Homo sapiens: one gene and its partner. The protein of the gene in region 2 purifies or fractionates together with the protein of the main gene of each other region. This does not show direct contact. Each region holds a gene or a part of one and is shown on either strand. Other genes may lie near its edges.

Evidence for each region. Proteins that work in one complex are often made in the same cells at the same time.
Region 1: the proteins of SYNGAP1 (region 2) and ATP6V1D purify together in Homo sapiens (co-immunoprecipitation; 2 studies listed by BioGRID and IntAct, with this or other methods). This does not show direct contact.

The regions. Positions count from the first base shown.
Region 1 is NC_000014.9:67,353,305-67,356,804, forward strand, and holds part of ATP6V1D (V-type proton ATPase subunit D), read right to left. Parts: intron 1-3,500. UniProt on the Homo sapiens protein: Subunit of the V1 complex of vacuolar(H+)-ATPase (V-ATPase), a multisubunit enzyme composed of a peripheral complex (V1) that hydrolyzes ATP and a membrane integral complex (V0) that translocates protons.
Region 2 is NC_000006.12:33,444,065-33,447,564, forward strand, and holds part of SYNGAP1 (ras/Rap GTPase-activating protein SynGAP), read left to right. Parts: intron 1-379; coding exon 380-553; intron 554-2,510; coding exon 2,511-2,722; exon of another isoform or gene 2,723-2,734; intron 2,735-3,500. UniProt on the Homo sapiens protein: Major constituent of the PSD essential for postsynaptic signaling. Inhibitory regulator of the Ras-cAMP pathway.

The sequences.
Region 1 (3,500 bases), on a different chromosome or scaffold from region 2:
ATGAATGGATTAACGTCATTATGGTAAGACTGGGTTCCTTATTGCAGGAGTGGGTTGGTTTTAAATGTGAGTTCATCTGGGTACACCTGTAATCCCAGCTACAGGTGTAAGTGGGAGGATCCCTTGAGCCTGGGAGTTCAAGTCCAGCATGGGTAAGATAGTAGCAAGACTCCTTTTGTTGTTGTTGTTGTTGTTGTTTTTGAGATGGAGTCTCACTGTGAGGCCCAGGCTGGAGTGCAATGGCGCGATCTCGACTCATTGCAACCTCCACCTCCCAGGTTCAAGCAATTCTCCCACCCCAGCCTCCCAAGTAGCTAGAACTACAGGCGTATGCCACCAAGCCCAGCTATATTTTTTTGTATTTTTAGTAGAGACAGGGTTTCACCATACTGACCAGGCTCATCTCGAACTCTTGACTTTAAGTGATCTGCCTGCTTCAGCCTCCCAAAGTACTGGGATTACAGGGATGAGCCACCATGCCCGGCCCGACTCCTTATTTTTTGAGATGGGGTCTTGCTCTGTCACCCAGGCTGGATTGCAGTGGTATGATCATAGCTTGCTGCAGCCTCTAACTCCTGGTCTCATGAAATCCTCCAGCCTCAGCTTCCCAAAGTGCTGGGATTATGGGCATGAACCACTGCACCTGACCCTGTCCCTTTAGAAAAAAAAAAAAAGGCATGTTCGACCCTTTCTTGCTTTCTCTCTCACCCTCGCCTTCTGCCATGGGATAACACAGCAAGAAGGCCCTCACCCTTCTCAGCCTCCAGAACCATGAACCAAATAAATTTTTTTCTTTATAAATTACCCAGTCTCAAGTATTGTTATAGCAGCAGAAAATGGACTAAGACAACTGGTTTTCCAATAATGTAGATTTCTACCATCAGTGTTCCATAAATGAAAAGTTTATTAATTTACAACAGAAACAATTTTATAATCAATATCTGGAATATTTATTAAATCATCATAAATGTTATCAGGAGCCTTATTTTATGATGCCAACATAGTTTAAATACTTATTTGATTTGTAAGTTAAAATAATATCTTTGTTTTAGTTTCCACTGGAGGTATATTAAGGATTTAAAAATCTATCCACTAATATATATCAAAATTTTAAATGCAATTATTTTCAAGACCAACAATTCCACTTTGCGGAATTTATCCTACAAATTTATTCCCACATGTGTACAAAAACACGTGCAAGGTTTAAAAGATGGGTACTCCAGCCTTATGGTAATAGCAAAAGGGAGAAACAAGCTAAATGCTAAATACATCAGAGTTCACCTATGATGGAATGATATACAGTCATTAAAAAAGACGAAGGTATATAGGCATGTGCTGTCTATATAACAGTCTTATTTATGCAAAGTAAGGAAAAAATGTGCTTATATAGATGCAGAGAATAGTTCTAGAAAGGATTCACAAAAACTGGCAAGAGTTACCTTTGATAAATGGGACTGGATGAAAAATATGGATTTACTTTTTACTACTATATTCTTTTGTACCTTTTGCATTTTATTTTATTTTTTGAGGTGAAGTTTCACTCTTGTTGCCCAGGCTAGAGTGCAATGGCGCGATCTCGGCTCACTGCAACCTCTGCCTCCCAGGTTCAAGCGATTCTCCTGCCTCAGCATCCCGAGTAGCTGGGATTACAGGCATGCGTCACCATGCCTGGCTAATTTTTTATTTTTAGTAGAGACAGGTTTCTCCATGTTGGTCAGGCTGGTCTCGAACTCCTGACCTCAGGTGATCCGCCCACCTCGGCCTCACAAAGTGCTAGGATTACAGGCATGAGCCACCGCACCTGGCCTGCATTTTTTATACCACAATAATTTACCACATTTTCTATTAAAAGTGTGGTATTAACATGTTTTGATATCATCAATCAAGATCCTAACAGCAATCATTTTATTAATTTGTAAAAGACTAGGTAACAAATGACATACGTAAGATTCCTGAGAAATGACAAGCTAAATTTACACTGAAGTCTCCTCACTTCCTTGTTTCAATTTTTTTCCCCATCAGAAGCCCCAATACCAAAGTCAAGCAGAAACTGACATTTCTGTTCTTGCTGCCATATGCCAGATACAATTTAATAATGAAAAAAGTGGAGCCCAGTTCGAGGATGTAGAAGTAAGACCCTGTCTCAAAAAAAAAAAAAAAAAAAAAAAAAAAAAAAGACTAGAAATAAAATGTCATACCATGCAGTAGTACATGCTACAATAAAATTAAAATAAGGAATTATGACAGAAGCAAACATGGTGTTCACTTTAGATTGGGTGATCAGGAACAGCCTCTCTTAAGAGACTAGAACAGCCAAAGGAGCCAGTTATAAGTTCCGGGGAAAGAGTATTTCAGGCAGGAAAAAGAGCTAATGAAAAGTACCTGGAGGACCTTAGGAAGAATGCTCTAAATAAGGTAAGTGGTACAGTGGCTTATGTCTATAATCAGCACTTTGGGAGGCTAAGGTGGGTAGATTGCTTGAGTTCAAGACCAGCCTGGGAAACAAGGTGAAACCCTGTCTCTACAAAAAAAAAAAAATATCAAAATTACCTGGGCATGGTAGGGCACACCGGTAATCCCATATACAAAGAAGGCTAAGGTGAGAGGACTGATTGAGCCCAGGAGGTTGAGGCAGTGAGCTGTGATCATGCCACTGCACTGCAGCCTGGACAACAGAGCAAGACTCGGTCTCAAAAAAACAAGTGTTTGGGTAATAAAATTCAACAATAAGGTTGTATAACCTAGACACAGTATAACCTAGACACAGTGATTTAAGGGGATATAATTTCATATGACTGGTGTTTTAAAATCGCATGTACTAATAAACTTTTTTGGCCAGGTGCAGTGGCTCACACCTGTAATACCAACACTTTGGGAGGCCGAGGCAGGTGGATAACTTGAGGTCAGGAGTTCGAGACCACCCTGGCCAACATAGTGAAACCCCATCTCTACCAAAAAATACAAAAATTAGCTGGGTATGGTGCTGCATCCCTGTGGTCCCAGCTACTCAGGAGTCTGAGGCACAAAAATCACTTGAACCTGGCAGGCAGAGGTTGCAGTGAGCCAAGATCGGGTCACTGCACTCCAGCCTGGGCAACAGAGGGAAAACCTGCCTCAAAAAAACAAAAACAAAAAAAAAAAAACAAAAACAAACAAACACCATTTGGCCAAATTCTTAAATTATACTGGAATCTTTTACCATAGGGCTAAGATCACTAAGACAATTCTATAGCTGAAAGGGACTTTAGACATTAACTTAAAGATTAGAAAAATGAGGCTTAGAAAAGTAAAACAACTTTCTCAAAGTTACTCAGTGAAGAAAAGGCAGGGCAGGGACTTGAACCAGACTTTTGATTCCACTGACTTTCCCAATGCTCAAACTAAGGCTCCAACCTACGTTCACTGTACCCCAAACATGTGCCTCCCCTTAAAGAGAACAATTATCACTGGCTGACTCTGCACTGACTGGTCTCACAAGAGGTCTTATCAAGTGAAGGTCG
Region 2 (3,500 bases):
TTGCCTCCTTTTGGCCATTAAACAAATGTGTATAGAGGGCCTGCTATGTGCCATGTGCTATGCCAGGCACTAAGGATACGGCACTGAACCCTCTTAGCACTCTCATTCCAGAGGGGATTAATCCATAAGTAGAATGGGGGTGACTGGAATAGGGCCAGCTGGGGGCTTGGAGGCATGAAGATCAGATCCTGAATCAGAACAACAGGAGAAATTCTCTGGCATTCAACTCACATCTCTGGCATTCAGAGGTGATAAAGGCTACAGCAGGGCAATAGGACTGGGACTGTCGTCTCCTTTGGCTGTGCTGTTGCCCTCTAAATGTACCCTGCTTTTTCCCACCTTTTCTTTCTCTGTTCGCCCTCACTGTGCCTTGTCCCAGCATTCTCAGACACCATCCACATTGAACCCCACAATGCCAGCCTCTGAGCGGACAGTGGCCTGGGTCTCCAACATGCCTCACCTGTCGGCTGACATCGAGAGTGCCCACATCGAGCGGGAAGAGTACAAGCTCAAGGAGTACTCAAAATCGATGGATGAGAGCCGGCTGGATAGGGTACGATGGGCTCTACCAGCTCCAAGCCCCAGTGTTTCCTTTTACCCACAGGGGAGATCTCTAGTCACTTCCAAGGGAAACCTCCAGGGTCAGTTATGGTGGTAAGAAAAGGCAAAGACCTGATCACCTCTTGAGAAGCCTTCCGTCCATCTGGGGAGACCAGATACACACAGTTGTTAAAAGTCACTTTCAACTCTATTTTGTAGGTTATATATATCATAGACTATCTGGGGATCATCTATTTTAGGCTTACCTCCATGTTCTTCCCCAGGAGGAACATAAGCCCTGGCTCCTGTGACTGCTTAGGAAAGGAAATGTTACTTTACTGGCAGTAGGAGCTAATAAATTGGATGGGGATGGAGGGGGTTGCAGCTATATTACAAGTGATGTCTGGCCTACCCAGTCACTGTCCCATGGGCATAAGTGACAGTCAGTGGGCAGGGAATGCATGTGGTAAAGTAGTATGTATCAGTCATGTGTGAAAAGACCATCCAGACCCTCACTTGGTGGAGGCTGAGGGCAAAGGGCACCAAGAGCTCTGGGGCTAACACAGATAACTTAGCAGAAAGTTACTTGAGGAAGCTGTTGTTCCTAGGGCCTGAGGAAGAGGGCGGCTGCAGGATTAGGTCATATATAAAGAACATATGATCCTAACACGGGGAAGTGGTCTTTGAGCATAGGAAATGTTGGGACTGACTCAGATGGGCTTGACCAGCAAATTTAATGAGAATTAAACCCTAATATTAGCCCCAAGGCAGCCACCGTAGGAAGTTAATTCACATCTCTCCTCTGCATGTAGAAGGGTTGGTGATATATGTATGTATCCTCTTCAGAGAATGAGGAAATAGTCTTTTGAATCATTTTTTTTTCTGTGCTTCAGATGAGGAAACCTTGTTGAGAAAGGCTGTAGACTAGCACTATCCAATATAACTTTCTGCAGTGATGAAATGTTCTGTAATCTGTAGTGTTCACATGTGTCTAGTTGTGATTCAGGAACTGAATTTTTAGATCTATTTAATTTTAATTTTGTAATTTTTTTGAGACAGGGTCTTGCTCTGTCACCCAGGCTGGAGTGCAGTGGTGCAAACATGGCTCGAGGCAACCTCCGCCTCCTGGGCTCAAGACATCCTCCCACCTCAGCCCCCTGAGTAGCTAGGACTACAGGGTCGTGCTACCATGCCTGGCTAGTTTTTTTTCTTTTCTTTTTTTTTTTTTTTTTTTTTTGTAGAGACGGGGTTTTGCCATGTTGCCCAGGCTGGTCTAGAACTTGTGAGCTCAAGTGATCTACCTGCCTCAGCCTTCCAAAGTGCTGGGATTACAGGTGTTGAGCCACTGTGCCTGGCCTAAATTTTAAATAGCTACATGTGGGCTGGTGGCTACCATATTAGACAGCACAGCTGTAGACTCTAGAGCCAATAGGGCAGATAAAATGACTCTTCTGAGCTCTTCCAGCTCTGGAATTCCTAGATTCTCAGCCTAGAATTCACTTGTAGACCTCCTATCCTTGGCACCTTGACAGAGCCAAGGAGAGGGTCACATGGAGGACAGCACCTGCCTTTCCCCCGTCAATTGCCTTTTCTTCCTATGTCTCCAGCATGTGTTCTGGGGCCTGGCTTAGGGCTGAAGAGTCACCCTATTTTTAATTTCTGAGCACAGTTACTCAAGGTGTGTTTGTGAGTGTAGGTTTCTGTGTGGGTCTTCATGAGGGGCCATACATAGACCTCAGGGTGTGGGAGTCTGTGACCTTGCTCCATTTTGAGGGAACCTCAGCACCATGGCAGGGTCTTCTCAAAAGCAGGTGTGTGGATATGATCCACAGGCAGGGAAGGGGTTGGGGAAGGCAGCTGGATGTCCCTCAACATGCAGTGGCTGTGCTTGGCAGACAGGGATGGAGGCTGGGTGGTGGGCTTGGGGTGGGGCGCCCCTCATAGTGCGGGGTCGTGTGCCCGGCGGGCAGGTGAAGGAGTACGAGGAGGAGATTCACTCACTGAAAGAGCGGCTGCACATGTCCAACCGGAAGCTGGAAGAGTATGAGCGGAGGCTGCTGTCCCAGGAAGAACAAACCAGCAAAATCCTGATGCAGTATCAGGCCCGACTGGAGCAGAGTGAGAAGAGGCTAAGGCAGCAGCAGGCAGAGAAGGATTCCCAGATCAAGAGCATCATTGGCAGGTGAGGGGCGGCCTGGGGAGGGGGTTGTGAGGGAGAGCCTGAGGCTGGAGAGAGCAAGTGGGTGAGCTACTCCGCTGACTCCCATCCCCAAACTCAGGAGCCCACCAGGAGAGCCCACCACTCTCCTCCCCAGGAAGCCACCCACTCACTCATCACCAGATGGAGAGAAACCCCAACCTGCTTAGTGCATTAAATATCTCTTTACCAAACCCTGACCTCTCTTCTGATAGAGTAGCTTCGGAAGCCCTTGGAAAATGTACCTGTTCCTGTCCAACCATCACTGCATTTGCATTTACCCTAGGCCAGAGCTCCCCACTAGTTATTCTCAACTTAACCTGTGATGTTCACTCCAAACCTAAGCAGGGCTCCCTAGCCAGAGTAGGCCCTGCCCTTCCTGGGTGGACCCTCCCTCTCTAGCCTTGGAAAGGTGTTCTGTTAGAAAGGGTCTTTTAGCCTGTGTATGTTTTCAGCTGCTCCAGCAAGTCCTGGGCTCCAAAGAGGGTATCCTCAGCAAAGAGGTCAATTATCTTCAGAGTGGTGGGGTCGGGGTGGGGGGGACCCTGGGCGCACTCCAACCAGAGCCACCTCCATTTTGATCCATTCTAAATGTATTTTATGTAAGATTTAATTAGAAGAAAAGGGCTTCTTGAAATATTTTTTGAAAACCACTGCTCTAATTGATATCCTTTATGATAAATCACCTCGAGGATCTTCACAGTGAGGTGACATGGGGGATGCAGAAGCCAGGTCCTCAGCCATGGAAGGTCTGGGGAAGGGG